Linked DNA regions of Homo sapiens. The protein of the gene in region 2 binds, or shares a complex with, the protein of the main gene of each other region. Each region holds a gene or a part of one and is shown on either strand. Other genes may lie near its edges. The genes, in order: SART3 and USP4. A codon is read from its position in the direction of its gene.

Region 1 (16,299 bases), on a different chromosome or scaffold from region 2:
CTTAGGTGACAATGCAGTGGCATGATTACAGCTCACTGCAGCCTTGACCTCCTGGGCTCAAACAATCCTCCTACCTTCGCCTCTGGAGAAGCTGGGACTACAGACACATGCCACCAAGCCCGGCTTTTTTTTTTTTTTTTTTTTTTTTTTTTTGGTAGAGACAGGGTTGTGCTACGCTGCCAGGCTGATCTCAAACTCCTGGGCTCCAGCAATCCTCCCGCCTTGGCCTCCCAAAGTGCTGGGATTATAGGCATAAGCCACTGTGCCCAGCCTGAACACTTTAACACGCACAAAAATTTGAATGGCCAATCCACGTGAAAAGATGCTCAACTTCATTAGTAACCAAGAAAATACAAATTAAAACTACAATTTCAAATTCATCAAATTAAGTAAAATTTAAGTATGACCAATATCCAAGATTGGCACAAGCAACGAGAACTCTCAGATACTGCTCACAGCAGTGCAAACTGATAACCTGGAAAACACTTTAACATCACCCTATGATCCAGCAAAGTCATTCCTAAGTACGTATTCTAGAGAAACTCTTTTTCATGTGTACAAGGAGATACACACAAGAATGTTCAGAGTGGCGCTGCTCCTTCTCCTAGCAAAAACCTGGAAATGACCCAACTATCCAGCAACATGGATAAATACATCGCAGTACACAGACAACTTTACAGCAGTGAAAACAAATGCACCGGAGTTATACTTAGCAACATGAGTAAAACCCAAAAGCATGTTCAATGAAAATAAAATATACAGCATGATTCCAATATATAAAAGTTCAAAAGCAAGCAAAATTAAACAATATATTAATTAAGGATACTTTCATAGCTTGTAAAACTATAAAGAAAAGCAAGGGAATTATCATCACAAAAGTCAGGAAAGTGATTACCTCTCGGGAGAGGGAGGAGGAGGCAATCGGAGAGGGGCACATAGGAGACTTCTAAGGTACTGGCAATGTTCTATTTCTTAACCTGGGTGGTAGGTACATGGATGTTCACTTTATTATTAGTATGTAAACTGTACGTATACATTTATACACTCTATATATTTCAGAATAAAACATTTTAAAGATACTGTTTAACTCGCAACTATCCATCAGGGAAAGGTTTGTAGAGAGACGTTTACTATAAAAGAAGCCAACACTTACCAGTGCTTCTTCATAGGGTTTATATTTCTCCAGCTGCTGTAGTGCTTTGTTATAGTTCTGAATTACTGACTCTGGTATTGGGTCTTCTGACCATTCTTCATACTCTGCAAATGTGGCCTCCATATCTATTGAAAGATGGATTCAGCCCCGTGGGTCTTGCCATTGGGCTTTATCAACCCAAACACAGATTAAGCCATGAGACTCAGGTGCCACTAGCCCCTCCCACATCTGTGGCATGGCAGCTCTTACTGATCAAATTCTGATTTCTGCTGAGCCCAAACCTGTCTGTAGAATCTGTCTTAAAACAATGTCCCAGGCAACCCTCCCAGCTAATTAATCAGTCAATGACACTAGTGGCAACGATTTAACAACACTTACCCAGTGTTACCTATGTTCTACCACTTCACATCCACTAACTCATTCAGTCATCCCACTCTACAAGGTAGTCTATTGTGATCCTCATTTTGCAGTTGAGGAAACTGAAGCAGAGGGTTCAGTTGCTCGTCTACAGTTAATGGTAGAGCAAGGCTGTGAACCCAAGCAGTCTGGCTCAAGTTCGCACTCTAATCATTATGCTAGGTTGTTTCACGCTGGTAGGTGAAATCTGCAAGCCGGCTCAGCTCTAGTGTTTTCTGCATGATACCCAACCATTTGATTAGACGACTACTTTATAACTTGTTAAATCCAATAAACCATGAAGAGAAATAACATGTGGGCTCCAGTAAAGTTGCCCAGAGGTTCTGAGTATGTACAACACATGCCCGTGTCTAGGGAACAAACACAACAGCCATGACAAACTCTTCCCATACTCAGAAAAATCCTCCCAGCACGCACACACTCATAGCTCCAAAGACTCAAAGGCTTAGATTGCCAAAATGTATTTACCAAATAAGGAAACTCTTTACCAAACCCCAAGAAACTCACTTATGAGTACTTCCAATCAACTGCACTTCTGAACCAAATCCCTCCCATAGAGGAATGATCTAAACTCATGTAAAATTCCTGCTGTTATGGAAGAGGTTACTTGTGAAGAGAAAATGATTATAATGGAACTCTTGTTCAATGAAGTTTCCCCAAAAAATACAGGTGTCATTCACTATTCCTTTCAGAGACCCTATCTCTGCCCTTCCAACTAGGTCTCAAAGGAGAAAAGAGCTCTCACCTGGGAGTCAGGGAGTCTGGCTTCCAGTCCTGCCTCTGACCCTCACAACCCTCTTAAGCACTAACATTCAAGATGTTTTTACCAAGGACCTCATCCAAAGAGACAATATCCAAGGAGAGTAAGAACACCAGCTTTACCTGCCTCACAGGATGGTGGGAAAGGTCTAACTACATGTTGTTCCCCAAAGCATTTTAAAAACCATAGAGGGCTGGCTGTTGACATGTCAGTTTCTCTTACCATAGAGTGGGATCGCCAACTGTCGCCGGAAAAGACTGTGGACTTTCTCAAGCTGTGAATCAAAGGTTTGTTCCCGGTCAAAAGGGGAAAGGAAGCCAGCTACGGGCTAAAGAAGCAAATTAGTAGTAAATGACAAACTGTGGTTCTTTCTTTTTCTTTTGAGAAGGGTTCTTGCTGTCACCCTGGCTGGAGTGTGGTGGTGTGATCACAACTCACTACAGCCTCACACTCCAGGCTCATGCAATCCTCCCACCTCAGAGTCCTGAGTAGCTAGGACCACAGGCATACGCCATCATGCCCAGCTAATGTTTTAGTTCTTGTAGAGATGGGGACTCACTACATTGCCCAGGCTGGTCTTGTACTCCTGAACTCAAGTGATCCTCTGGCCTCAGCCTCCCAAACTGCTGGAATTACAAGCATGAGCCACCGCACTTGGCCAACTCTGGTTCTTTCTACTTCAAAAAATATCTCAACAAATTTTCAGTTCAAGCTAAAAAAATTTATACGACCTCTTCCATACATATTGTACCAAATGCTAGAAGGGGTATAAAAAAAGGTTATCTATCACCCCACCACTAAGGGATTGGCAAAGACCATTTTGTTAACTATATGAACTGCAAGATTCATCATGGACATGTGTTTCAAAATAATCCTTCCAAGGAGACTTACAAAGACAGCCCCAACCCGTTCAGAGACAACCACAGGTACTCACCCGAGCAGCTTCCACAATCGCACTTTCAAACTCTCGGTAAGCCTCCCAGAGGGCGAGTCCTTTGGTCATATGTAAACCAACAGACGAGAGAGCCCTTTCAAACACGGAGCGAACTTTCTCAAGGCCACCTTTCTGACCAATCCCACCAACTGAGTACTGGCCATACTCTAGCCAAATGTTAGGACCTAAAAATAAGAAGTGTTCAATTAGTTTGGGATATAAAATACCCAAATATCAAAACTGATGCATAACAAACGAAATGTGCCTACCAAAAAAGTACTCAGACAGCAGCACTAAATGACAGTGAAGGCCTAACAGCAGAGATGACCATAAAGGACTAAAAAACATTACAGTCTGGGGAAGACCATAGATCCTCAGAAAAAGATAAATGGTGCTATTAACAATGCCTGTGAGAGAGTAAGAAGGGGGTAACAGGATCATCAGAAATCATGGGAACACCATGCACTGCTAAAATTATCAGTGGCTCTAAAAGAAGACTCATGGGCCACAGAGCAGAGATACAGGTATAGTTTTTAAAAACACATTTGGCCAGGTGCGGTGGCTCACGCCTGTAATCCCAGCACTTTGGGAGACTGACGTGGGAGGACCACAAGGTCAGGAGATCGAAACCAGCCTGGCCAATATGGTGAAACCCCGTCTCTACTAAAAATAGAAAAATTAGCCAGGCGTTGTGGCAGGCACCTGTAGTCCCAGCTACTCAGGAGGCTGAGGCAGGAGAATCGCTTGAACCTGGGTAGGGGGGAGGTTGCAGTGAGCCGAGATCACACCACTGCACTCCAGCCTAAGCGAAAGAGTAAGACTCTCTCTCAAAAAAAAAAAAAAAAACACACATATAATATAGTTTTATATTCATAAAACACCGCTTATTTTCATTATTCAGATTATAAACCAAAAAACTGTGAATTCTTCTTGGCTTGTAAAGATACACAAAAAATTCTCTATCATCTCAGAACAGTCTATCTGGTTAGTAGCAATGCTTCTCACAGGGGGACTGCTCCCATTGGGAAATCAACAAGGAAGAGGGTACGAAATCTGAAAGGGGAAATTGTTTGTTTGTTGAGACACAGTCTCGTTCTGTCGCCCAGGCTAGCGTGCAGAGGCATGATCACGGCTCACTGCACCCTCTACCTCCTGGGTTCAAGCAATTCTCCTGCCTCAGCCTCCCAAGTAGCTGGGACAACAGGAGCATGCCACCACGCCTAGCTAGTTTTTTGTATTTTTAGTAGAGATGGGGTTTCACCGTGATAGCCAGGATGGTCTCAATCTCCTGAACTCGTGATATACCTGCCTCAGCCTCCCAAAGTTCTGGGATTACAGGCGTGAGCCACTATGCCCAGTCTGAAAGGGGAAATTTTTTTAATGCTTTTTTTTTTTTTTTTGAGACAGAGTCTCACTTTGTCGCCAAGGCTGGAGTACAGTGGCACAATCTCGGCCCACTGCAACCTCCGCCTCCTGGGTTCAAGCAATTTTCATGCCTCAGCCACCTGAGTAGCTGGGATTACAGGCCTGCATGCCACCCCGCCCGGCTAATTGTATTTTTAGTGGAGATGGGGTTTTCCCCATGTTGGGCAGGCTGATTTCGAACTCCTGGGCTCAAGGGATCCGCCTGCCTCAGTCTCCCAAACTGCTGGGATTATAGGCATAAGCCACCATGCCTGGCCTTAAAATGCTTTTTTTTGAGACAGAATCTTGCTCTGTTGCCCAGGCTAGAGTGTAGTAGCACAACCTCAACTCGCTGCAACCTCCACTTCCCAGGTTCAAGCAATTCTCCTGCCTCAGCCTCTTGAGTAGCTGAGATTACAGGTACGTGCCACCATGCCTGGCTAATTTTTGTATTTTTAGCAGAGACGGGGTTTTGCCATGTTGGCCAGGCTGGTCTTGAACTCCCGACCTCAAGTGATCCACCAGCCTTGGTCTCCCAAAGTTCTGGGATTACAGGCGTGAGCCACCACACCCAGCCTTAAAACGCTTTTTAAAAGCATTTTGTCCACAGCATTGTCTGATGTGGTCCCCAATTCACATGGAGAAAATATTTAAGACAATTATACTATATACAAGGGACGGTAAAGAGACTTAAAGGGAGGTGAGTCTTCTATACTTCACTTGCACTGGTAAGATGTCAATACCAGCAGGCGAGGGAGGTCTCTGTGGGGACAGAACAGCTCTGTATCTGGACTGCAGCAGTGGTTAGATGAATCTACACATGTAATAAAATGTCTTTTTTTTCCCATTGTTCCAAGGTCAATTTCCTGGTTTTGATTTTGTATTACAGAAACAAGATATTGGAGGAAACTGGGTGAAGGGAGTACACAAGACTTCTCTGTACTATTTCTGCAACTTCCTATGACTCTATAATTACTTCAAAATAAAAAGGTTTTCTTTTAATGTTTTAATCTTTTTTTTTAAAGCATCCTGTCCAAAACCTCTAAAAACCTATTGAATGTATAAAAGATCAGTGGAAATACCATGTAAGTTCTCACTGTCAATAAATCCTGAGTGTGAGTGTATTCATTCCCTTACTACAAGTGCTTCTTCCACTTTTATTTTAAAATTAAACTTCCTCAATTAAAGACCAAAGACAATGATAAGACAACTCAACTTAAATCTTGCTAATTGTGAAACTAACGTTCCCTTTTCTGGGTAGCAACATCTCATAATACAGTCCTCAACAGCAGACTGATATATATGACATTGCCAGATATCCAAAAAAAGTCCACGGGAACTTACAAATGTAATCCTTCACGGCTTTCTCAAAGAGGTCATACACGTGCTCTCTGTCCAGGCCATCCTGGGCCATGCTGATCTCGTCATGCAGCCACTCCAGCCAGAGCTCTACGAGACAAAAATACTTCCCGCATTAATACCAAAGGGTAGGCTAAGCGCAGGGACTTTACCAAGAGACATCAGCATGCAAACGTTTCATCCATCTTACACAACCTGGCGTTGTTTCCAGAAATTCACTTCTTAAAACCTGAACTAAGCACATAGGAGGTTTTATGCTTCCAAATAAGATCAAATCACTAAAATCATAATATCCTCCACCTGTTAGGCATTTTATATTTTGCAAAGCACTTTTCTCATTCAGTCTTTATCACAATCCTGTAAGGTTGGTGATAGTAACACTAATAATAATGACATCTATCTAAGGATGACAACATGCCAGGCATGTGTTAAGTGTTATACGTAGAATAGCTCATCCTATACCGTCATACATTACAATGCAGAAACTACTGTTGCCATCATTTAACTGCTAGAAAAACTGAGTCTTAGAATGTTTACATAATTTGCTTAAGGTCACACAGCTAGTAAAAGATGTAGCCAGGAATGAATCTAGGTCACCTGACTCCAGCATCTACACTCGGCAGTTATGCTTTGCAGAAGGGAAAAGGGGCAGAGTGGGATCTAGGACCAAAGTGTTCTAAGTACTGCCCAAAGATCACTTATTAATATTCATGAAGATTGAACTACAGAGTTGTTCAGTGCAATTATGTTTCTAATAAGCAAATAAGTAGAAATAACCTAAATGCCCAACTATTCTGGAACAATTAATGTATGAAACATTTACATAAAAAACTGTCTGTAAAAGTTTAAATATATTTACAATTTTCTGGTTTCAAGAGAATGGTTTAAATACATAAATAGTGAAATGGGAAATACAGAAATGAAAGCCAAGTTTAATTACATTACAAATGTTTACCACAACGTTAGAATAAAGAAATCAGAATTCAAAATCCGTGTTATATGATCATAACTACATTTTGCAAAAAACTACAATAAACTAAAAATAGCTAACTCTGATGCGTTTTCTTCTTTCCACTACACTGAACGTTCCAGGTTTTCTACAAGGAGCATGTCCCACTTTCAACATTGTAAAAAATGTGCAAGCCTTGTTTCTGTTTCTAAAAGCAGCCTGACTGCTGAAGCTTACCTTCAGTCAAGGGAAAGATTTCACTCATCTTCTGGCGGGCCATCCTCACCTTGGTAAGCTCCCCTTCCAGCCTGAGCAGTCTGATCAAGTCCACATGGCAGTTGTAGTCATAGACGTTGATAGACAACTAACAGGAAAAGAAACAAGTTGAAATTTAAAACACCGTCATCAAGTAACTTAGCTTTTGTCACTACTGGTAACTACACATATACCTGCCACAAACAAAATAAACGTGCTATCTGAGAAAACCACTGAAACAGCAACCCAGCACGTACCCACAGGTAGAAGACAAAACAATAAAAGAGGCTTTTGTAACAAACATAAAGCTCCCTCAAATCTGTTACAGTTCCTGTTAGAAGACATTTGGGTTCTCTTGGAAATAAAGGAGGCATTCTAATGAAACAAATAAAAAGTATGTGACCTTAGGTAAGTTATTTACTTTCCTAAGCTCTATTTCCTCATCTATAAAATGAGGACACTACTAGTTTCTAGCTCATACCAGGTCTTCCAAGGATTTAAAAAATTTCTACTGTTACACTGGTCTTTAAGAAAAACTAAAAAATAAAAAGGTAATTTCATAACGTCCTTTAGCACATGTGAGGTACACTGTAAGACCTCTTTTATTTTACTAAATAAAAAAGATGGAAGCCAGTTGTGGTGGCTCACATCTGTGATCCCAGCACTTTGGGAGGCCGAGGCAGGTGGATTGCTTGAGCTCAGGAGTTCGAGACCAGCCTCAGCAACACAGTCAAACCCTATCTCTACCAAAAATACAAAAAATTAGCCAGACATGGTGGCATGCACCTGTGGTCCCAGCTACTTGGGAGGCTGAAGTGGATCACCTGAGCCTGGGAGACAGAGGTTGCAGCGAGCCGAGACCACACCACTGCACTCTAGGCCTGGGTGACAGAGCAAGACCCAATCTCAAAAAAAAAAAAAAAAAAAAAAAGATAGAAATCCCTATTAGAGAAACAAGAGTGGCAGCAGGTTGGTATCTGTTGATGCTGAGTGACAGGTACATAAAGTTTTATTTGTACATTTGAAACTTTTCAAACTAAAATTATTTTAAGTTACCATATATCTGAGACAAAGAAAAATGAAAAAAATGTCACTAGCAGACCTACCCTTGAAGAATAGCTAAAGGAAGTTCTTCGAACAGAAAAGTTAGAAGAAGGAATCCTAAAGCATCAAAAAGGAAGAAAGAACAGGAAGAGCAGAAATACGGGAACTACGACAGATTATCCTCCTCTCCTCATGAGCTTTCTAAATCATATGTAATGGAACAAACATTGTAAGAACTTCTGATACCCAACACAGTATTATTTAAAAGTGGGGATGGAAAGAGAACTGAAATGGAAGATTCCCTCACTTCATTCAAGTGGTAAAACACGGATACCATGTAAGTCAACTCCGTATATTTTAATACCCAAAGCAACCACTGAGAAAACTATTCAAAGCAATTACACTAAAAATCACCTTAAATAAATCAAGATGGCTGGGCATGGTGGCTCACACCTGTAATCCCAGCACTTTGGGAGGCCAAAGCGGGCAGATCATGAGGTCAGGAGTTCAAGACCAGCCTGGCCAACATGGTGAAACCCTGTCTCTACCAAAAAATACAAAAAATTAGCTGGGTGTGGTGGCACATGCCTGTAGTCCAGCTACTCAGGAGGCTGAGACAGGAGAATTGCTTGAACCCGGGAGGCGGAGGTTGCAGTGAGCAGAGATCCAGCCTGGGTGACAAAACAAGGCTCCATCTCAAAAAAATAAATAAATAAATCAAGATGAAAATCTAAAAAATATTCAAATAATCCACAGAAAGGCAAGAAAGGAGAAACAGAAGAATGAGAAACAGAAAATAAACAGAAAATAGTAAAACGGCAGGCTTTGGTCTGAATAAACCAACAATTGCCTTAAATGCGAATGGTGCATATATGCTAATTAAAAGGTAGATAATGGTAGAGTGGATAAAAACACAACCCAACTATATGGTGAGTACAAGAAATTCATTTCAAATTCAAAGACACAGGTAAACTGGTTGAAAGGAAAAGGAGAGAAAAAGATAACATGCAAGCATTAATTAAAAAGTTGAAGCGGACATATTAATATCACATAACGTACACTTCAGAGCAAAGAAAATTACTAGAGATAAAAAGGATTATATAATGACACATAATAATAAATAGATCAATCTACCAGGAAGACATAACAATCCTAAATGTGTAGGAACCAAAGAGCGCTTGAAAATTCATGAAGCAAAAACTATTACAGAGCTCAAAGAGACACAGCAGCAATTACATTTGGCAACTTCAACATCTCCCTTTTCAGCAACTGATAAAACTACTAGACACTTGAATATGTTGAACCTGGTCAAAAAGAAGATGAATAAAAGAAAAAGAAAATTAGACAAAAGCAAATTAAAAAATTTTTAAGTTTTTAAAAAGAAAGGAAATTGTTTAATTTTTTTTTAAACTAGGCAGAACAGGGTTATAGAAGAACTCAATAACGCCGTCAACGAACATGACCTAATTTATATAGAGAACAGCCCACCCAACAATACAGAATATGTATTTTTCTCAAGTACTTACGGAACATTCACTGAAGCCATATCCTTGGCCATAAAACAAACCTCAACAATTTAAGAGAAATGAAAACCATGCAGAGTATGTTTTGTGACCACAATGGAATCAAATTAGAAACCACTAACAGTAAGAAAATCTCTGAACACGTGAAAATTAAGTAATACACTTCTAAATAATCTGCAGGTCAAAGAGGAAGTCTCCAAGAAAATTTACAAATTAAAAAAAGTGAATGAAAATGAAATTGCAACAAATCAAAATAAGTAGGATGCTACTAAAACAGTACGGAGGAAAATTTAAAGAACTAAATTCAGTGTATAAGAAGAATTATACACCATGACCAAGTGGTATTTATTCCAGGTTTGCAAGGCTAATTCAACATTTAAAAATCAATTACTGTAATCCAGTGTATCAAAAGGCTAAAGAAAACTCATGGTATCAATAGATGCAGAAAATGCATGTGACAAAATCCAACAACGATTCATGGTTAAAACACTCAGCATGTTAGGAATAGAGGGAAACAACCTCAACCTGATAAAGAGCATCTATAAAAAATCTATCCCATAAGTTGGGATATAGGGTTACCTTAACATCATTCCTAATGGTAAAAGATTGAACACTTTCCTCCTAAAATCAAGAACAAGGCAAGGATGTCTGCTCTCACCACTCTTTTCCAACAAAGTCCTATAAGTTCTAGCCTGTTCAATAAGACAAGGAAAAGAAATAAAAGCTATACAGCTCGGAAAAATAAAACTGTCCTGATTTGTAGATGATATGGCTAAGTAGACAATCTTAAGGAACCAATTAAAAAAAAAAAAAACTCCAAAAATAGTGAACTGAGCAAGGTCACAGAATATAAGATAAACATACAAAAACAAAAAAAAAAACAAAAGAACATGTGGAAACCAAATTTAAAGACATAGCACCATTTACAATCACTCCAAAAAACCTAAATAATTAGGTGTATATTTAAAAAGTTTACAAAATCTGTATGCTGAAAATTACAAAATGCTGAGGAAAGAAATCAAAGACCTAAAAAAAGAGACACTTCATGTTCATGGATTGAAAAACTCAACATAGTCAAGAAGTAAATTCTCCCTAAACTGACTTACAGGCTTACTGAAACTCCAATTAAAATCCCAACAAGGTTTTTTGTAGACCTAGACAAGCTTATTCTAAAATGTATATGGGATGGCAGAGGCCCTAGAATAGCTAAAAATGATCTTGAAAAAGAATAAAGTGGGAGTAATCACTCTACCTGATTGATACTAAAACCTACAATACAGCTACAATCATCAAGGCAGTGTGAGAATGGCAGAAAGATACATAGATGAAGAGAATAGAACCCAGTAACAGACCCACACAAATATGCCCAAATAATTTTTGACAAACGCAATGCAACAGAGGAAAAAAAAAGGCATTTTCAAAAAATGATGCTGGAGCAAATGGATATCCACAGGCAAAACAAATAAATACACCTTGACCTAAACTTCACGCCTTACAGAAATAACTCAAAATGGATCACACTTAAATGTGAAATGTAAATATAACATCACAAAATGTTAGGACAAGAGAAAAATTTCAAGGCAACATCAAGGATCCTTAAGGTGACAGAACTGATCTGTATCTTGACTATATCAATGTCAATACCCAGGTTATTACATATTATAGTTCCTCAAAGTGTTATCATTGAGGGAAACTGGGTAAAAAGTACACGAAAAATCTCTATTATTTCTTACAAGTGCATGGAAATCTACAATTATCTCAAAATAAAAAGGCGAATTGTTTAAAAAGCTTTTGTTGGGATATAGGGATAATTTAAGTCTGTACACCAAGACTTCATTAGTATCTACTCTTCCAACATCTGCCACATTTTAGGAATATTTCCCTCTCCAGAGATAAAAGATTACCTACACTTCATTCAAATTACACTCTACCATCTGACAACATACCCTAATAATCCAGGTACTAGATATTTAATTAAAATACAGAAAGACAGCCAATGAATATGATTACTTGAACTTTAGGATAAAAATCTTAACAATGAAGTAGCCAGTGAACCTTTAAATGGAGTGGGGACAAGGACCAACCATTCAGAGAATACAAATATGAAGGATTACGGGGTTTTGTTCAAGTGTTTAGATTTTAAACAAGAACTCATTATCTTTCTCTACTAATTATAATAGTAAAACCCTTCCATGGCTTCCCAGTATCCTAGGAACAATTTGCAAATCCCTGCCTCATGTGCAATCCCAGCATGCTGGGCTCATCTCTCCAGCTACATCTCAAACCACCGGCCTCTCAACATGGCAGCCAGCTTCGTGTAACTCAAACATTCCAACGTCTCTCCAACCTCAGGGCTAGGCACCTGCTGCTCCTTCAGCCCAGAAGGATCTCTCACCTTCTCTCTGCCTAGCCACCCCTTTTCATACTTCAGGTATAAACTTCACTTCCTCAGAGGGCGCCCCCGGCCCCCCTCCTATGCCACTCTTTCTTAAGTAGCCCCCTATATGCTGCAAGCTGTTTTCCATCTCATCATCGTGTTTATTTCCATCATGACCTAAAGGCTTCATGGGATAAGTACCTTGTATGTCTTATCCTTGACTTGGTTAGATTCTTTACCTACCTGGCACACAGAATTCAATAAATTACATGTCAATCTCACTCAAGAGCATTAATACAAAAATCCTAAATAAAATATTAAAAAATCAGAAATGTATAAAGAGAACAATACATAATGATCAATTTGGGTCTATCCCAGGAATGCAAGGGTGTTTTTACACTACAAAATCATCCAGTATAATTTTTCCACCATCAGATTTGAGGGAAAAAAACATGATTACCTCAATGAAGAAATAGCATTTGATTAAAACATCCATTCATGAGTCAAAATTAAGAATTAGCAAACTAGGAATAGAAAGGCACTTCCTTAACCTGATTTTTAAAATCTGCAATAAATATATTTTAATAACATATTTATATATTTATTATATTGTTTATTATATATTTATATATTTATATTTAGTAAATTTAATAATACATTAAAATTCCTTTTAAAAAACACAAAAAACTTCCCAGTATTGCCTTCTATTTAACCCTGTACTGGAGGTCTGGGGTTTTAACAATGAGACAAGGAAAAGAAACAGATATAGAGAAAAGAATGAGAACTGTTAATTATGGTCAGATGATATCAATGTATAGTAAACCAAAACTCATCTACAAACAAATCATTTGGAAATAATAAACAAGATTAGCAAAGTGACAAGCAATAAGAGCAATGTATAAAAATCAATTATATACAAAGAGACAAATACTGTATGATTCCACTTATATGAAGTATCTAGTCAAATTCATAGAGACAGAAAACTACAATGGTAGTTATCAGGGGATTGGGAAGGAAGGAGAAGGAGAGCTGTTTAATTGGTAGAGTTGTATATATGCAAATGAAAACTTTGGAGATCTGCTTCACAACAATGTGACTATACTTAACACTACTGAACCATACACTTAAGAATAAGATAGCAAAGTTTACGTTATATGTTTTTTACAATAAAAAAATTACATTTCTATAAACCAGCAAGCTTTAAAATGTAATTTTAAATAGGATAGCATAAACATCAAGCACTATAAAGTACCTAGAAATACATCTAACAAAAGATGTGTGAGACCTCTATGGCAAAATGTTTTTAAACTTGATTGAAAGATATTAAAGACTTGGCCGGGGGCGGTGGCTCACACCTGTAATCCCAGCACTGTGGGAGGCCGAGGCAGGCAGATCACTTGAGTCCAGGAATTCAAGACCAGCCTGGGCAACAGGGCAAAACCCCGTCTCTACAAAAACTGTAAAAATTAGCTGAGTCTGGTGGCACATGCCTGTGGTCCCAGCTACTCGAAAGGCTGAGGTGAAAGGATCGCTTCAGCCCAGCAGGCGGAGGTTGCAGTGTGCTGAGATCATGCCACTGTACTCCAGCCTGGGAAACAGAGCAGGACCATGTCTCAAAAATAGAAAGAATATTCAATACCTAGACGAATGGAGTTATATGCATGTTCTGGGTTAGAATAATCATTATGGCAAAGACGTCAATTCTCCCCTAAATAATCCATAAATTCAATGCAATTCAAATAAAAAAACCAACAGGGTTTTTCACAGACCTTGACAAAATAATTCTAAAATTTATATGAAAGAGCCAAAACACCCTGCAAGGAAAGAAAAAAAGCAGGTAGGAGGATTTGTCTTACCAGATAGCAAGCCTTAGCAATAAGTTAATCAGTGGAATTGGCACAGGATAGACAAACTGAAGAGAGAGCCCAAAACAGACCCATGCAGTTGAAAAACACTATGGCTCAGGTGGCACTTGCTGTTTCAGCTAAAATAAATTCACAACCTATGACTATGACCCCCAGGTTGAAAAACAGTGACTTTGAGAAACTCTCTTTTTTTTTTTTTGAGTCAGGGTCTCACTCTTACCCAGGCTGGAGTGCCGTGGCAGTCACAAATCACTGCAGCCTCAAATTCCCAGGCTCAAGTGATCCTCCCGCCTCAGCCTCTTGAGTAGCTGCTACTACAAGCTCATGCCACCACACATAGCTAAATGTTTTAAATTTATTTTTTGTAAACACAGGGTCTCACCATCTTGCCCAGTCTGGTCTCAAACTCCTGGGCTCAAGGGATCATCCTGCCTCAGCCTCCCAAAATGCTAGGACTACAGGTGTGAGCCACTGCATCTGGTGAGAAACTCTTGTACATGATGTGAACTGCTTTGTATTTATCAAATTACATGCCAAAAGATAATAATCAATTACAGATAAGAACATGATCTCTAAGTTTTAAATCTTAAGACTTTTAGCAATGTTCTCCTGCTTATGATTCATAAAACCTGAGAAGCTGAACTCATCCGATGATCACACGATAGGCTGAAAAGCACTGGACCAGATCAGGACACAAGTGTTCTAATCCCCACTTGTTCTGTTTCCTCATCTGTACCATGAAAGAGCTGGGCTAAAGCTCTGGTTCTTAAATGGGCTATCATGACACACTGATGTTTCAAAATCACCTATCAAGTGTGTCACACAAAGTAACCGCAGTTTGGGATGTTTGAGAAGTGAAGTTTGAGAAGGATACACTTTCTTCATTAAAGAACATTCAAGGCTCTCCCCACCACATCACCAGTCTGAACTCAATAGAGTGTGCTTGCGGAGCACAAACAGGAGTGGGAGAGCACTTGCTAGTCAGTGTCACGAATATCTATGCATGCAAGTGCCCCTCACATGAACACCATGTGTGGATCAGCAGAAGAAAAAGGTATAAAAGTCGCTAAAGTCAAGAAGCTGACTTTTAAGGTGTGGCTTTTGGTGTAAACTTCTGATTTTTAGGGTAAAATGATGAAGATACTATATGTGGACAAGTACTCTGAAAGTACATATATTAAATACATACTGAAATGCACTTAAAAGAGCTATTTCCACATAGTTCAATCTATACTGATAAATGAGTACATATGCTGGTCTATTCTGGTCTTAGAACATCATTAATGACATAGTTTTTTTTTTTTTTTTTTTTTTTTTGAGGTGGAATCTTGCTCTGTCACCCAGGCTGGAGTGCAGTGGTGTGATCTCAGTTCACTGCAACCTCTGCCTCCCGGGTTCAGGCGATTCTCCTGCCTCAGCCTCCCGAGTAGCTGGGATTAACAACATAGATGCTTTAAAGGAAACTTAACCAATCACAAAATGATCTGCTAACTGATTTAACTCCCTAGCAATGTGAAAAATGTGTTATACCTAGCTGTACTAGAATGGGGGAGAAATAATAGAGAGGACTGATGGAAAGAAAACAACTGGTGCAATCAAAGGCAGGGAAGGGAGAATGGAGCAGCACCTATTATGCGCCAAACTGTGCCAGGCGCTTTACGCACATTGTGCCATGCCCCACAACAGTCCCATGAGGAAAGCACTATTACAACCTTCATTTTACTAACTGGGACACCCAAGACTCTGCGAGCTGAAATAACTTGTACAAGGCCTTTCCACTACTCAATGGAAGGCTTGGGTTCAGGGTTGCAAAGCCATAGTCTCCGTACTGCTGCACTGACAAATCTGCCGAAGCCACCATGAAGTGCCACTTTTAATTTCAGCGCACAAACACATATAATGGAAAATATTTGCTTTTGTTAGACAGATACCACAGCAAACTGCCAGCTACCATAAAATATAATCAAGGCCACGTGCAGTAGCTTGCGCCTGTGATCCGAGCACTTTGGGAGGCTGAGGCAGGAGCATCACTTCAGCTCAGGAATTCAGCACCTGCCTGGGCAACATAGTAAGAACCCATCTCTACAAAAAAAAAATATTTTTAATTAGCCAGGCATGGGGGTGCATGCCTGTAGTCCGAGATACTTTGGAGGATGAGCTGGGAGGATCACTTGAGCCTGGGAGGTCCTAGCTGCAGTGAGCCATGATCACACCACTACTCCAGCATGGGCAAGAGTGAGATGCTCTCAAAAAAAAAAA
Region 2 (16,299 bases):
TTTTCCACATGTTCTAACATGCTTTCTAATTACCATACTTCTTATTTTTTCCCCCCTTCATTTTTGCCTTCCATTAATTTTCCTTTTGCAGGTGTGGCAGTTTGCTAGTCGCCTCCTGCTAGCTATTTTCCCCTCCTTCCTTAGTTTGAGAACCCCAGTTTTTAGCTGGACATGATGCAGTCCTGCTATACAGTACATCCCAGCCTTCCTGAAAGCCAGGTATTGTCATATGATTAGCCAATGAGATACAAAGGAGGTTTGATGTATGATATCTGAGAAATGTCCTAAAAAGGAAGGGGTAGGTCAGCTGGGTTTAATATTGCCATGGAGCTGCTACGTCAGCAATGGATTGACTGCCTACGTCAGAAATTCTTTTCAGAAAGATGTAAGCCTCCATCTTGCTTAATACGCTAATTTGCAGATTTTTCTTACCTGCCAGCAAGCCTTTCCTAACTGACGTAGTATGTTTCAAAGTTATACATTCAATTTTCCGTTTCTGTTAGTTGTTCCATTAACTTATTAGGATCTCTATTTTTATTTTTCCCCATAAATTACATAAACTTACAATTGTTCACCTTTCTCATCCTCAAGAATAGTAGTTCTGGACATTCTCATCTCTCTCTGCTCTATACTAATTCCTCACCTATGTTGGAATTACCCAGAATTTATCTCTGGAATATTATAGATACTAGTTGCTTTCTTAAACCTTGATTATTATTGTACCTTTTTTTTTTTTTTCTCCTGAGACAGAGTCTCACTGTATCGCCCAAGCTGGAGTGCAGTGGCACGATCTAGGCTCACTGCAATCCCCACCACCATTCTCATGCCTCAGCCTCCCCAGTAGCTACGATTACAGGCATGTGCCACTGCACCGGGCTAATTTTCTTCTATTTTTTAAGAGATGGGGTTTCAGCATGTTGGCCAGCCACCGCACCTGGCCTATTATTGATTTTTTTTGGCCGGGCGCCGTGGCTTATGCCTGTAATCCCAGCATTTTGGGAGGCCGAGGCAGGCGGATCACTTGAGGCTAGAAGTTCGAGACCAGCCTGGCCAACATGGTGAAACCCCGTCTCTACTAAAAATACAAAAATTGGCTGTGCATGGGTGGCATGCACCTGTAATCCCAGCTACTCAGGAGGCTGAGGCACAGAATTGCTTGAACCCAGGAGGCAGAGGTTACAGTGAACCGAGATCATGCCACTGGACTCCAGCCTGGGCTACAGATCAAGACTCCGTCTATTAAAAAAACAAAAAAACAAAACCCCTGAGTGTATAAAATCAAGAAATTTGCACCAAGTGATACATCCATGTAACCACTACCCTGACCAAGAAACAGGACACCCCCAGACCCCTAGGTGTCCTTCTCACGATTCAGTCGCAATTCTTCCCAACACTAACCAGTTCTGACCATGAATCCCCAAGGTTAATTTTGCCTGTTATAAAGTTTTAAGTCAACAGAATCATTATGCCCTGCTCTGTGTCTACCTTCTCTCATTCATCATTTTTCATTAGACTCATCACTGTTGTGCAAAGCTGGACAGAATTTCCTTGTGTGCTTACACTTACTGCAGTTTATCCATTTACTTTTGATGGACATTTGGGTTAGCTCCAGTTTGTAACTATGACAAGCAGTGCTAGCACAAACATCCTGAAATATGTATTTAAGAGAACATGGGATATATTTCTATTGGTTATATGCCTAACAACAGGATTGTTGAGTAGCAGAATGTGCATATAATTCTACATTTTTGCCTCTTTTTTTTACTAGTGTTGCCTGACTTGTTTGTATTGACTAGTAGGAATTTCTTTGCAACTCTAGATATACGACCAGCTGTGGTGGCTCATGCCTGTAATCCAGCACTTTGGGAGGCTAAGGCAGGCAGATAACTACAGGCCAGGAGTTCAAGACCAGCCTGGCCAACATGGTAAAACCCTGTCTCTACTAAAAATACAAAAATTAGCTGGGCATGGTGGTGGGAGCTTGTAGTCCCAGCTGCTCGGGAGGCTGAGGCATCAGTCACTTGAACCCGGGAGTGGGGGTGCAGTGAGCTGAGATCGCACCATTGCACTCCAACCTTGGCAAGAGAGTAAGACTCCGTCACAGGGAAAAAAAAAAAAGAAAAAAAAATTCTGGACACAACTTGTCAGACATGGATTACAAATCTCTTCTCTCACTGTATGGCTTATGGCTTGTCTTCACTCACTGGTGAACAGACATTCTTTTTTTTTTGAGATGGAGTTTCGCTCTTGTTCCCCAGGCTAGAGTGCAATGGTGCAATCTCAGTTCCCTGCAACCTCCGCCTCCCGGGTTCAAGCGATTCTCCTGCCTCAGCCTCCCAAGTAGCTGAAATTACAGATATGCACCACCACGCCTGGCTAATTTTGCATTTTTAGTAGAGACAGGGTTTCTCCATGTTGGTCAGGCTGGTCTCAAACTCTCAACCTCAGGTGAGCCGCCCACCTCGGCCTCCCAAAGTGCTGGGATTACAGGCATGAGCCACTGCTCCTGGCCTTTTTAAAAAAAAAAAAAAAAAAAAAAAAAAAGAGATGGGGTCTTGCTGTCGCCCAGGCTGGAGGGCAATGGCAGAATCATAGCTCACTGCAGCCTCAAACTCCTGGACTCAAGCAATGCTCCCACCTCAGCCTGTCAGGTAGCTGGGACTACAGGCACTCACCATTGTGCTTAATCCCATCTGCAAAGTCCCTTTTGCCATGTCACCTGACATAATGACAGATTCTGAAACAGATTCTGGGAATTAGGATATGGATATCTCAGGGTGAAGATGAGCACAGCTATGCCTACCACAGCTATTTTATTTATCTTGTCAACAACTGGCAACCGGGGTTTCTTAAACTGGAGTCCATGACTGGACTTCAGGGGTTCTAACAGTTCTTCTCTTAAGAACTCATAGTTTTCATGGTTCTCAAATGACCTAGGAGCCCACTACTATGTAATGGTCACAGTCCAAGGCCTGACAGAGGGAAAAGGACAGAGCGCAACATTATTCCCATAACTACTGGAACACAGATATAATTTCCAAAACTTATACCATAACGAAAATTAATCACTTCTTTATCTCCCTAAGAACATGCACAGTTCCACATACCACATGAACATCTCTTGAAACAGATGTGTCCTTAGTCCAAGTTTTGTAGCTGAACAATTCACCCAGCAAGCTCCCAGGGCAACAATGAGTAACAGGCCACTGGGCAGAAACAGGTAGAATCAAGCTATCACTTTTTTTTTGTTTTTGTTTTTTTTGGGTCAGAGTCTTGCACTGTCACCTAGGCTGGAGTATAATGGTGCGATCTCAGCTCACTGCAGCCTTCACCTCCTGGATTCAAGCGACTCTTGAGCCTCAGCCTCCCGAGTAGCTGAGATTACAGGTACCTGCCACCATGCCTAGCTAATTTTTGTATTTTTAGTAGAGACAGGGTTTTACCATGTTGACCAGGCTGGGCTCGAACTCCTGGCCTCAGGTGAGCCACCTCCCACGGCCTCTCAAAGTGCTGAGCTTACAGGCATGAGCCACCATGCTCAGGCCTCAACTATCACTTTTAAGTCATATAAAACCCCATGCCTTAGCCTTCCTCTTATCCATCAAGGCCTCTAACTACATGTGGAGAAAATAAAAGCGTGACAAAAACAAAGCAACCTCCTGGTAGAGCAGCAACCTTAGACTTGATCCCTCATATCCCTTCCTCCTTTTCTCATTCTCCACGAGCAGAGGCTCGCCACCTTGCTGAGATATCCTGACAGGCTTCCCTTAGATGCTGCCCTGCTACCAAAAGCCACGGTCTTCATCCAGAAGCATGAACTCTGGATATACAAAATAGGCATTGTTCATCTGAATCAGAACAATTTTTCTTAGTACAAGTACTGCCTTAGGAAAGACTGTCTCTTTTGCACATGTGAGCCTACAACAAGGGAGAAAAAATTCACTTACTTTGACTGCAAGGTCTGCCTGGGCCATGTGCCATCTTCATTTTGAGGCTCAATTACTAGCACCTGAGTGAAAGGGGAAACCAAATGAGGAGAGTTCAAACCACCGCACTTCCAACATGCTTAGAAGCAAAAAGTATCTGGCCACACACCCTGGGCAGAGCTACCTGCTGGGGAATGGCCAGGGCCCTCCTACCTGACCCTGGTATAGCCCAGCATCCTGGACAGTGTTGTCTAGCTTGCTCAACTGCTCGTAGGTGTTGCTCATGTATTTGTTCCAGAGCCGTGTTTCACGCTCCGCAGGGATGTTGAATAGCTTCCGCATCTCTTTCTCGATGGTTGCTAGGAACAGGCAGAAATATCACTTGGGGCTTTGTCCACATGCAAGGCTAAAGACAGCCATGGCAAACTAATGCTCATCCTCTTTCTTGTCAGATGCTCACAGGTGCTCTGGATCAACCCCCTGATACCTCTTAAAATCAATCATCTCCCATGGGTGGCCTCTTGCACTCATATGCCTGGAAAGTATCCCTATGCTTCTTTGCTAACGTGTGTCTCTCATTTATGGCGCAAAAGCAACATAGAAAGCGAGAAAGCTTATCTTTGGAGTTAACTCAGATATGGCTTCAAAAGCTAGCTCCACCATTTTCTGGCTGCGATTTGTTTTTTTTTTTAAGAGACAGGATCTTGCTCTGATGCCCAGGCTGCAGTGCAGTGGTGGGATCGTAGCTCACTGTAAACCTTGCTGAGATTTTTAAATAAGTTATTTTTAAACTTCTTTGGATCTACATTTCCTTATCTTCATTATCATAGACAAATGGGCAAGGAGCAGGCCCAGTGTTCTCTCCATAAGAATTCCTGGAGGAATAGGCCCCCAGGTCAGGACTGGCAACTACAGCTCGAGATGATTTGGGTAACAAATCTAAAGAGGGCATATAAAATAATGCCCTCTTCCCTCCCATCAGCCACAATGTCCTACACTCTCTCACCACATACCAGGGACCCCAGCCCAGCCTCTCACCAATGGTGTCTGCCTTGCTGAAATGGCAACTCAGCACATTGGTGGGGTCACTGTTCTCACAGAGCTTCAGTTCCAGCAAATACACCTCGACTTTGCAGTGCTTGACAAACAGGCCATGCTCCACAACCTATGAACAAGAGGCAGGGGTGAGGGCATAGCGGTTTTGCAGCTGGGCAGTCTTGGATGTAGCATATCTTATCAGAAGCAAAAAGCAGAAAACTCATGATAATCCATTTCCTTTACTGATCAAGGGATCAAAAGAACAGATTTTTAAAGCTACCAGTACCTGGACAAAGAGTTTAAAAATATTTTTTCTGGCCGCGTGTGGTGGCTCACGCTTGTAATCTCAACACTCTGGGAGGCCGAGGTGGGTGGATCACTTGAGGTCAGGAATTTGAGACCAGCCTGACCAACATGGTGAAACCCCATTTCTATGAAAAATACAAAAATTAGCCGGGCATGGTGGCATGTGCCTGTAATCCCAACTACTCAGGAGGCTGAGACAGGGGAATCGCTTGAACCCAGGAGGTGGAGGCTGCAGTGAGCCAAGATCGCTCCACTGCACTCCAGCCTGGGCGACAGAGCGAGACTCTGTACCCCGCAAAAAAATATATATATATTTTTTTTCTACCCACTAAGACCAAGAGCATCTTGATGATATTAGAGAGAAGCCTATTCTTCACTGTTTTTTGTTTTTGAGATGGAGTCTTCCTCCGTCAGCAGCCTGGAGTGCAGTGGTGCGATCTCAGCTCATTACAACCTGCACCTCCTGGGTTCAAGAGATTCTCCTGCCTCAGCCTCCCGAGTAGCTGGGACTACAGGGGCCCACCATCATGCCCAGCTAATTTTTGTATTTTTAGTAGAGACAGGATTTCACCATGTTGGCCAGGATGGTCTCGATCTCTTAACCTCGTGATCCGCCTGCCTCAGCCTCCCAAAGTGCTGGGATTACAGGCGTGAGCCACCATGCACGGCCTGATCAAAGACTCTTTTTTTTTTTTTGCAACCGAGTCTCACTCTGTTGCCAGGCTGCAGTACAGTGGGGTGATCTCGGCTTACTGCAACCTCCGTCTCCTGGGTTCAAGCAATTCTCCTGCCTCAGCCTCCCGAGTAGCTGGGACTACAGGTATGTGCCACCACACCCAGTTAATTTTTGGATTTTTAGCAGAGACGAGGTTTCACCATGTTGGCCAGGGTGGTCTTGATCTCCTGACCTCGTGATCCACCCGCCTCAACCTCCCAAAGTGCTGGGATTACAGATGTGAGCCACTGCGCCTAGCTCAAAGACTCTTAAGCATAGAGGGAAAAGCAGTATCATAAAGGTTTTTTAAGATAAACAAGATGCAGGACATTAGCTATATGTCCATATGCCCCCAGTGAACTTTCTCTCATAGAATTTTCCAGAAAGTTCTCTCACAGCGCTGCTGGGCACATTCCAAGCCACTGGGCAGCTCTGATGTTTAGAGGCCACTCATGATAATATTCTGGGTGAGCAACTTCACTCACAACCACAATTTCCTAAAGAGAACCAGAAACAGGCTGGGCGTAGTGGCTCACGCCTGTAATCCCACCACTTTGGGGGGCCGAGTCGGGCGGATCACAAGGTCAAGAGTTTGAGACCAGACTGGCCAACATGGCGAAACCCCGTCTCTACTAAAAATACAAAAATTGGCCAGGCGTAGTGAAAGGCGCCTGTAATCCCAGCTACTCAGGAGGCTGAGGCACGAGAATCACTTGAACCTGGGAGCCAGAGGCTGCAGTGAGCCGAGATCGTGCCGTTGCACTCCAGCCTGGGCGACAAGTGCACAAGACTCCATCTCAAAAAAAAAAGAGATCCAGAAACAAGGCCTCAAGCACCACTATTCAACCACTGAGGTATGTTCATTTTCCTAGCAAACACTAGTCAGTGTCCAACAGAAAGCACCTGCAGACAGTGACCAGCAGGTGGGACAATTCACATAACTCACTTTTCTGACGATGGGTTGCTGGCCTTCTACACAGCCGTACCAGTTTAGTAGTTTATTCCACGCCTCGGTAGGGACCAATACATAGTCCAATTCATCAATTAAGTGTTCTTTCAAGGTCTGACTCTCAGGATCTAAAAAAGGAAAAGAGCACATAAGTCACTGCTCTTTACCCCAGAAATGATGGTTTTACATGATTTCCATGTACTTTTCAGAAATAAGAAAATTATTTACAGAAAGAAACAGGAATGAAATTCCAAAATTCTGTCACTGGTCATTATACAGAGCAGACTTTTGTCTTTATCCATGTTTTCTCTTTATCCATGAAGATTTTATGAGGAATTTGTATTTCTTCTATAATTGGAGGGAGAGAAGAGGATAAAAAAGAAAAACTCCAGGCTGGGTGTGGTGGCTCACACCTGTAATCAGCACTTTCGGAGGCTGAGGCGGTTGGATCATGAGGTCAGGAGTTTGAGAGCAGCCTGGCCAACATGGTGAAACCCCGTCTCTACTAAAAATATAAAAATTAGCCGGGTGTGGTAGCGGGCACCTGTAGTCCCAGCTACTCGGGAGGCTGAGGCAGGAGAATTGCTTGAACCCGGGAGGCAGAGGTTGCAGTAAGCCAAGATCACGCCACTGCACTCCAGCCTGGTGAAAGAGCAAGACTCCATCTCAAAAATAAATAAATCATACATGAGGTGGTTATGGTTTCCCACCATCCCTCCGACTAGTTTACACACCTTTTTCAGGGCAGGGTTCCTTTGTTGTCATTTCAACAATGCTCATAACATCTTCACCAGACATAGATTCCATCTCAAGAAACCATTTTCTTTGCTCACCCATAAGAAGCAACTCCTCAGCCATTCAAGTTTTATCATAAGATTAAAGCAATTCAGGCCGGGCATGTTGGCTCATGCCTGTAATTCCAGCACTTTGGGAGGCTGAGGCAGGCAGATCACTTGAGGTCAGGAATTCAAGATCAGCCTGGCCAACATGGTGAAACCCCATTTCTAGTAAAAATACAAAAATTAGCTGGGCATGGTGATGCATGCCTGTAGTCCCAGCTACTCGGGAGGCTGAGGCATAAGAATTGCTTGAACCCAGGAGGTGGAGACTGCAGTGAGCCGAGATACCCCACTGTACTCCAGCCTGGGTGACAGAGCAAGACTCTGTCTCAAAAGAAATAAAAATAAATAAAAATTAAAATTAAAAATAGGCCAGGCGCAGTGGCTCACACCTGTAATCCCAGCACTTTCGGAGGCCGAGGTGGGCAGATCATGAGGTCAGGAGTTCAAGACCAGCCTGGCCAGGGTAGTGAAACCCCGTCTCTACTACAAACACAAAAATTAGCTGGGCATGGTGGTGCACACCTGTAGCCCAGCTACTTGGGAGGCTGAGGCAGGAGAATTGTTTGAACCCAGGAGGCGGAGGTTGCAGTGAGCCAAGATTGCGCCACTGCACTCCAGCCTGGGTGACACAGCGAAACTCCATCTCAAAAAAAATAAAAATAAAAGTAAAAATAAAAAATAAAGCAATTCAGTCACATCTTCAGGCTTCACTTCTAATTCTAGTTCTCTTGCTATTTCCACTTTTGCTGTTACTTCTCCCACTGATGTCTTGAGCCCGTTGAAGTCATCCGTAAGTGTTGGAATGAACTTCTTCCAGACTCCTATTAATGTTGATTTTGACCTCCCATGAATCATGAATATTTTTGTGTGTGTGTGTGGGCAGGTGGGAGTGGCAGGCCTTACTCTATCACCCAGGCTGAAGTGCAGTGGCATGATTACAGCTCACTGCAGCTTCGACCTCCCAGACTCAAGCAATCCTCCTGCCTTAGTCTCCCAAGTAGCTAGAACTACAGGTGCATGCCACCAGGCCTAGCTAATTTTCGTATTTTTTATAGGGATGGGGTTTTGCCAAGTTGCCCACCCTAGTCTCCAATTCCTGGGTTCAAAGGATCCACCTACTTCAGCCTGCCAAAGTCCTGGGATTATAGGTATAAGCCACTGCACCAGGTGGAATCATGAATATTCTTAATGGCATCTAGAATGGTAAATCCTTTCCAAAAGGTTTTCAATTTAATTTGCCCAGATCCTTCAGGAGAATCACTATCTATGGCAGATAAAGTCTTATAAAATGTATTTCTTAAATAATAAGACTTGAAAGTTGAAATCAAATCAGGCACGCTGGCTCAGGCCTGTAATCCCAGCACTTCGGCAGGCTGAGGCGGGAGGATCACTTGAGGTCAGAAGTTTGAGACCAGCCTGGCCAACATGGTGAAACCTGGTCTCTACTAAAAATACAAAAATTAGCCAGGTGGAGGGACGGGCACCTGTATCCCAGCTACTCAGGAGGCTGAGGCAGGAGAATTACTTGAACCTGGTAGGAGGAGGCAGGAGAATTGCTTGAACCTGGGAGGGAGAGGTTGCAGGGAGCCAAGACTGAGCCACTGCACTCCAGCCTGGGCAACAGAGTGAGACTCTGTCTCAAAACAAACAAACAAACAAACAAACAAACAAAAAAAGTTGAAATTACTTCTTGACTCACAGGCTGCAGAACGGATGTTTTTAGTAGGCATGAAACAACATTAATCTCCTCATGCATCTCCATCAGAGCTCTTGGGTAACTAGGTACATTGCAATGGAGCAGTAACTTTTTTTTTTTTGAGACAGTCTCGCTGTGTCCCCCAGGCTGGAGTGCAGTGGCGCCATCTCGGCTCACTGCAAGCTCCACCTCTCGGGTTCATGCTATTCTCCCGCCTCAGCCTCCCGAGGAGCTGGGACTACAGGCACCCGCCACCACACCCGGTTAATTTTGTTTTTGTATTTTTAATAGAGACAGGGTTTCACCATGTTAGCCAGGATGGTCTCAATCTCCTGACCTCGTGATCCGCCCACCTTGGCCTCCCAAAGTGCTGGGATAACAGGCGTAAGCCACTGCACCTGGCAGCAGTAACATTTTGATAAGATTAGCTCAGTGCTTTTTCTGAGCAGTAGGTCTCAACCCTGAGCTAAAAATATTGGGAGGCTGGAGGCTGGAGGCCGGAGGCCGGGCGCGGTGGCTCCCACCTGTAATCCCAGCACTTTGAGAGGCCGAGATGGGTGGATCACGAGATCAGGAGATTGAGACCATCCTGGCCAACATGGTGAAACCCCGTCTCTACTAAAAATACAAAAAAAGTAGCCGGGTGTGGTGGCAGGCACCAGGCGCCTGTGATCCCAGCTACTCAGGAGGCTGAGGCAGGAGAATCGTGTGAACCCGGGAGGCGGAGCTTGCAGTGAGCCGAGATCGCGCCACTGCACTCCAGTCTGGGTGACAGAGCAAGACTCCGTCTCAAAAAAAAAAAAAATATTGGGAGGCCGGGCGTGGTGGCTCACACCTGTACTCCCAGCACTTGGGGAGGCCGTGGTGGGCAGTTACCTGAGGTCGAGAGTTCGAGACCAGCCTGACCAACAAGGAGAAACCCCGTCTCTACTAAAAAAACAAAATTAGCTGGGCGTGGTGGCGCACGCCTATAATCCCAGCTACTCAGGAGGCTGAGGCAGGAGAATCGCTTGAACCTGGGAGGCAGAGGTTGTGGTGAGCCAAGATCGCACCATTGCACTCCAGCCTGGGCAAAAGAGCAAAACTCCGACTCAAAAAAAAAAAAATCGGTAAACTTGTTGTGGTGGCTCATGCCTGTAATCCCAGCACTTAGGGAGGTCAAGGCGGGTGGATCACTTGAGGCCAGGAGTTTGAGACCAGCCTGGCCAAAATAGCAAAACCCCATCTCTACTAAAAGTACAAAAATTAGCCAGAACTGGTGGTGCATGTCTGTAATCTCAGCTACTTGGGAGGCTGAGCCATGAGAATAACTTGAACCCGGGAAGCAGAGGTTGCAGTAAGCCGAGATTGCACCACTGCATTCCAGCCTGGGCGACACAGCGAGATTCTGTCCCAGAAAAATAAAATAAAAACAAAAATATTCGGTATACCATGCTGTAAATAAATATGCTATCATGCAGGCTTTGTTGTTGCATGTGTAGGGCACAGGCAGAGCAGATTTAGCATAATTCTTGAGGGCCTTGGGATTTTTGGAATGATAAATGAGCACTAGCTTCAAACTAAAGTCACCATCTGCAGTATCCCTTAAGAAGAGAGTCAGCCTGTCCTTCAAGGCTCTGAATCTGGCCGGACAGAGTGGCTCATGCCTATAATCCCAGCACTTTGAGAAGTCAAGGCAGACAGATCACTTGAGCCCAGGAGTTGGAGACCAGCCCGGGCAACACGGCAAAATCCCATCTCTACAAAAAAAAAAAAAAAATACAAAGCTGGGCACAGTGGCTCACACCTGTAATTCCAGCACTTTGGGAGGTCAAGGCGGGTGGACCACCTGAGGTCAGGAGTTCGAGACCAGGCTGGCCAACGTGCTGAAATCCCGTCTTTACTAAAAATACAAAAAAAAATTAGCTGGGTGTGGTGGCAGGTACCTGTAATCCCAGCTACTTGGGAGGCTGAGGCAGGAGAATCACTTGAAACTGGGAGGTGGAGGTTGCAGTGAGCCAAGATTGTGCCATTGCACTTCAGCCTAGACGACAGAGCGAGACTCTGTCTTACAAAACAAACAAACAAACAAACATATAAAAATCAGCCAGGCATGGTGGCAAGCAACTGTAGTCCTAGCTACTCAGGAGGCTGAGGTGGGAGGATCACTTGAGCCCAGGAGGTTAAGGCTGCAGTGAGCTGTGATCACACACTACAGCCTGGGTGACAGGGCAAGACCCTGTCTCAAAAAAAAAAAAGGCTCTGAACCCAGGCACTGACTTTTCCCCTCTAGCAGCAAAGAGGTAGATGGCATCTTCCCAATAGAAGGGTGTTTTGTCTACATTTAAAATCTGTTGTTTAGGCCAGGCACAGTAGCTCATGCTTGTAATCCCAGCACTTTGAGAGGCCGAGGCAGGCGGATCACTTAAGGTCAGGAGTTTGAGACCAGCCTGGCCAACATGGTGAAACCCCATGGTGAGACTCTGTCTCAAAAAAATAATAATAATAAATAAAAATAAAATAAAATAAAACCTGTTGTTTAGCCTGGGCACAGTGACTCACACCTGTAATCCCAGCACTCTGGGACGTCAAGGCGGGAGGATTGCTTGAGCCCAGGAATTCAAGATCAACCTGAACAACATGACAAAACCCACAAAAAATCTCTGCAAAAAATACAATAATTAGTCGAGTGTGGTGGGGCCTGTAGTTCCAGTTACTCAGGAGGCTGAGATGGGAGGATCACCTGAGCCTGGGAAGGTCAAGGTTGTAGTGAGGTGTGATTGTGCTACTGCACGAGGTAGCAGTAGCTACCTTTTTTTTTTTTGAGACAAGATGGCACCTTGTCTCAAAAAAAAAAATAAATGAATAAACTTTCTCCATATCAGCAATAATAAGGCTGTTTCAGCCTCTTATAATTCATGTGTTCACTAGAGTAGCACTTTTTTTTTTTTTTTTTGAGATGGAGTCTCACTTCTGTCGCCCAAGCTGGAGTGGAGTGCAGTGGCGCAATCTCAGCTCACTGAAACCACCATTTCCTGGGTTCCTCCATCTCCCAGGCAACATGACAAAACTCCATCTCTACAAAAAGAAAAAATAAACACATACAAAAATGAGCCAGGAATGCTGGCAAGCACCTGTAGTCCTAGCTACTCAGGAGGCTGAGGTGGAAGGATCACTTAAGTCCAGGAGGTTTACATTTACATTCACAACTTGGCTAGCTATATGGCACAAGAGGCCTAGCTTACAACCTATTTCGGCTTCCTTAACCAAACTCAAATCATTTCTAGCTTTGATTTGAAGTGAGAGACATGCAATTCTCCTTTTCACTTGAACATTTAGAAGACGTTGTTAGGGTTACTAAGTGGCCGAATTTCAGTGTCATTGTGTCTCAGGCAATAGCAAAGCCTGAGGAGAGAGAGAGAGATGGAATGGCTGGTTGGTGAAGCAGCGAGAATACACACAATAATTACCAATTAAGTTCACTGTCTTACATGGGCTCCCTTCATGATGCCCCAAAACAATTACAATAGCAACATGAAAGATCCCTGTTGGCTGGGCATGGTGGCTCATGCCTGTAATCCCAGCACTTTGGGAGGCTGAGGTCGGGAGTTCAAGACCAGCCTGACCAACATGGAGAAACCCCATCTCTACTAAAAATACAAAATTAGCCGGGCGTGGTGGCACATGCCTGTAATCCTAGCTACTCGGGAGGCTGAGGCAGGAGAATCACTTGAACCCAAGAGGTGGAGGTTGCCATGAGCCACGATCATGCCACTGCACTCCTGCCTGGGCAACAAGAGCAAAACTCCGTCTCAAAAAAAAAAAGAAAGCTCCCTGATCACTGATCACCATAACAAATAATAATGAAAAACTTTGAAGTATTTTGAGAATTACCAAAATGTGGTAACAGAGACATGAAGTGAGCACATGCTGTTGTAAAAATGGAACTGACAGATTGTCAAGGCAGCGTTGCCAAATACCTACAAAATTTGCTAAAAATGCAGTATCTGCAACATATAATAAAGCAAAGCACAATAAGCCAAAGTATGCCTGAATTTAAAACCTTAAGAATTCTCCATTTCATAAAAATGAGAAAAAGAACAAAATGTGAACATAATGAAATGATTCCTTAGGGCAACTTCGTGGCATAGTGCCACCATTTGACCTATTTCAGGAAACAAAGTAAATGATATTGTTTATACCATGTAGACCTCTCCTAAAACAAGGTCTGAGCTGAAGCATTGCTCAGTTTTAAAAATATCCAAGTTAGGCCAGGCACAGTGGCTCACACCAACACTCTGGGAAGCCAAGGTGGGAGGATGGCTTGAGGCCAGGAGTTCAACCAGCCTGGGCAACATAGCAAGACCCCGTCTCTACCAAAAAACTTAAAAAACAGCTGAGAGTGGTAGAACACTGTAGTCTCAGTGACTAAGGAGGCTGAGGCAGGAAGATAGCTTGAGCCCAGGAGCTCAAGGCCAGCCTAGCCAACATGGTAGAGACGGGGTTTCACCATGTTGGCCAGGCTGGTCTCGAACTCCTGACCTCAGGTGATCCACCTGCCTTGGCCTCCCAAAGTGCTGAGATTACAGGCGTGAGACACCACTCCTGGCACTGCCCTGATTTTTGACACCCATGACAGATCACCTCTATCATGACTTTAAAGAGGTCTGAAGTCAGGCAAAAGAAAGCCTGGGAAAAGCTGACTCTGTCATCTCAGTGCATGTACAAGTGCAAGCAAGCTCTAGTGTGTTACATGTCGCTTTTCCCACAGTTCCCATTGGGAGCTGACTACAGTCATAACTCTGTCTACTGACCTTCAACCTCTCCTCACACTAGTTATATGATAAAAACAGCCATCACAGGAATTCTTGATGAAAGTTCACAGGTTTACAATTTGTTCCACTGCAAAGGTAACAAAAAATTCTGGTTCTTAAATTTTAGATACAATTTCAAAATGACATCCTATTTCTTTCCATTCCATATACTAACTTAAAATGTGAAATAGCTAGCAGAACTAATTTGCAAAGAGAGAAAGTTAAAATGTTAGAAGCATACTCTTATCAGATGCAGTTAATTTAAGGGAAAAAAGTAGCTTAACTTCTCATTAAGGGTTTGCAAAGACTTCTGCTATAGATGCAAAATGAGGATACTTGTTTCTATCTCCTCACACTAGGAAAGTTCACAACGTCCATGTTACAGATGCACATAACATCAGGCCACTGCCCAGGTGAATGTTTAGCTAGAAAAGCAACATTTACTATACCTGAAAATAGCCCAGAGTTGTCTATTGGGCCAGGAAATAGGTTATGTTCACCCACATTGTACATGTCCCAGCTGTCAAAGCCCACATACTTCTTCCACTGCTTGAACCACCGGCTGTCAATAAGATACCTAGAGAGAGACAGAAATTTACTGTAGCAGAAAAGCTGAGATTATAAATTTCTGCAGCTGCTTCCTTAATCTTTTTTATGGTCCTTCCACTTGGGGCATATGCAATACCCACTAAAAAACACTGTCACAAGAGCAAGAGCAGGGCCCAGGCCCCACATGGCACAGAGAGTCTGGCCCAGGGTATGCATCCATTAAGTGAAATGATTGTTCAAAGAGTGAATAAAAGAAAGAAAACAAGTGGTTTCAAAATGCTTATTTAAATGCAGTCTTTCTTTTTTTTTCTTTTAGACGGAGTCTTGTTCTGTCGCCCAGGCTGGAGTATAGTGACACAATCTTGGCTCACTGCAACCTCTGCCTCCCAGGTTCAAGCGATTCTCCTGCCTCAGCCTCCTGACTAACTGGGATTACAGGCACCTGTCACCACTCCCAGCTAATTTTTGTATTTTTAGTAGAGACGGGGTTTCACCATGTTGGGCAGGCTGGTCTCAAACTCCTGACCTCAGGTGATCCGCCTACTTCGGCCTCCCAAAGTGCTGGGATTACAGGCATGAGCCACTGCACCTGGCCTCTTTTTTTTTTTTTTTTTTTTTTGAGACGGAGTTTTCGCTCTTGTTGCCCAAGCTGGAGTGCAGTGGTATGATCTTGGCTCACTACAACCTCCACCTCCTGGGTTCAAGCAATTCTCCTGCCTCAGCCTCCCAAGTAGCTGGGATTACAGGCATGCATCACCAGGCCCAGCTAATTTTTTTGTATTTTTAGTAGAGATGGAGTTTCACCATGTTGGCCAGGCTGGTCTCGAACTCCTGATCTCAGGTGATCCTCCTGCCTTGGCCTCCCAAAGTGCTGTGATTACATGCATGAGCTACCACACTCAGTCTAAATGGAGTCTTTTCATGGGTAAAATCATGTTTGCTAATAAACAAGTCATTAACTTCTTTTTTTTTTGAGACAGAGTTTCGCTCTTGTTACCCAGGCTGGAGTGCAATGGTGTGATCTCGGCTCTCCGCAACCTCCGCCTCCCGGGTTCAAGTGATTCTCCTGCCTCAGTCTCCCGTAGCTGGGATTACAGGTGTGTGCCACCACACCTGGCTAATTTTGTATTTTTAGTAGAGACAGGGTTTCTCCATGTTGGTCAGGACAGTCTCAAACTCCCTACCTCAGGTAATCTGCCCACCTCGGCCTCCCAAAGTGCTGTGATTACAGGCGTGAGCCACCGCACCCGGCCACAAGTCATTAATTTCATAATGATCTTTACAGAAGTCCCACTCCAGGCAGACAGTTTGGTTACACTGTTTTGCTTGACATGAACAGCACTAAACTAATGCTCTTTCTGAAAATGGGTTAGAAACACCACCCACTTCAGTTTTCCTTTAAGGACCAAAGGAGTTCCAAAAATGTACACACAAGGCCAGGCGCAGTGGCTCACACCTGTAATCCCAGCACTTTGAGAGGCCGAG

What was found.
Region 1: the proteins of USP4 (region 2) and SART3 are in contact, whole or in part, in a crystal structure (PDB 5CTR), measured with the Homo sapiens proteins. Residues at the interface, in NP_003354.2 of Homo sapiens: Met24, Thr27, Leu28, Ser53 (codon at 14,787), Trp54 (codon at 14,784), Glu123, Gly125, Leu126, Phe127, Val128, Lys129, His130, Cys131, Lys132; in NP_055521.1 of Homo sapiens: Asp437, Ser438, Ser439, Lys440, Gln490, Arg493, Glu494, Trp496, Asp497, Met500, Thr501, Ala505, Trp511, Tyr514, Lys529, Arg533, Cys537.

What each region holds. Positions count from the first base shown.
Region 1 is NC_000012.12:108,541,875-108,558,173, forward strand, and holds part of SART3 (spliceosome associated factor 3, U4/U6 recycling protein), read right to left. Parts: intron 7,341-16,299; coding exon 7,214-7,340; intron 6,118-7,213; coding exon 6,013-6,117; intron 3,450-6,012; coding exon 3,265-3,449; intron 2,659-3,264; coding exon of another isoform or gene 2,605-2,658; coding exon 2,553-2,604; intron 1,279-2,552; coding exon 1,154-1,278; intron 971-1,153; exon of another isoform or gene 938-970; coding exon of another isoform or gene 896-937; intron 1-895. UniProt on the Homo sapiens protein: U6 snRNP-binding protein that functions as a recycling factor of the splicing machinery. Promotes the initial reassembly of U4 and U6 snRNPs following their ejection from the spliceosome during its maturation.
Region 2 is NC_000003.12:49,320,755-49,337,053, forward strand, and holds part of USP4 (ubiquitin carboxyl-terminal hydrolase 4), read right to left. Parts: intron 14,843-16,299; coding exon 14,715-14,842; intron 7,063-14,714; coding exon 6,932-7,062; intron 5,092-6,931; coding exon 4,965-5,091; intron 4,286-4,964; coding exon 4,140-4,285; intron 4,010-4,139; coding exon 3,948-4,009; intron 1-3,947.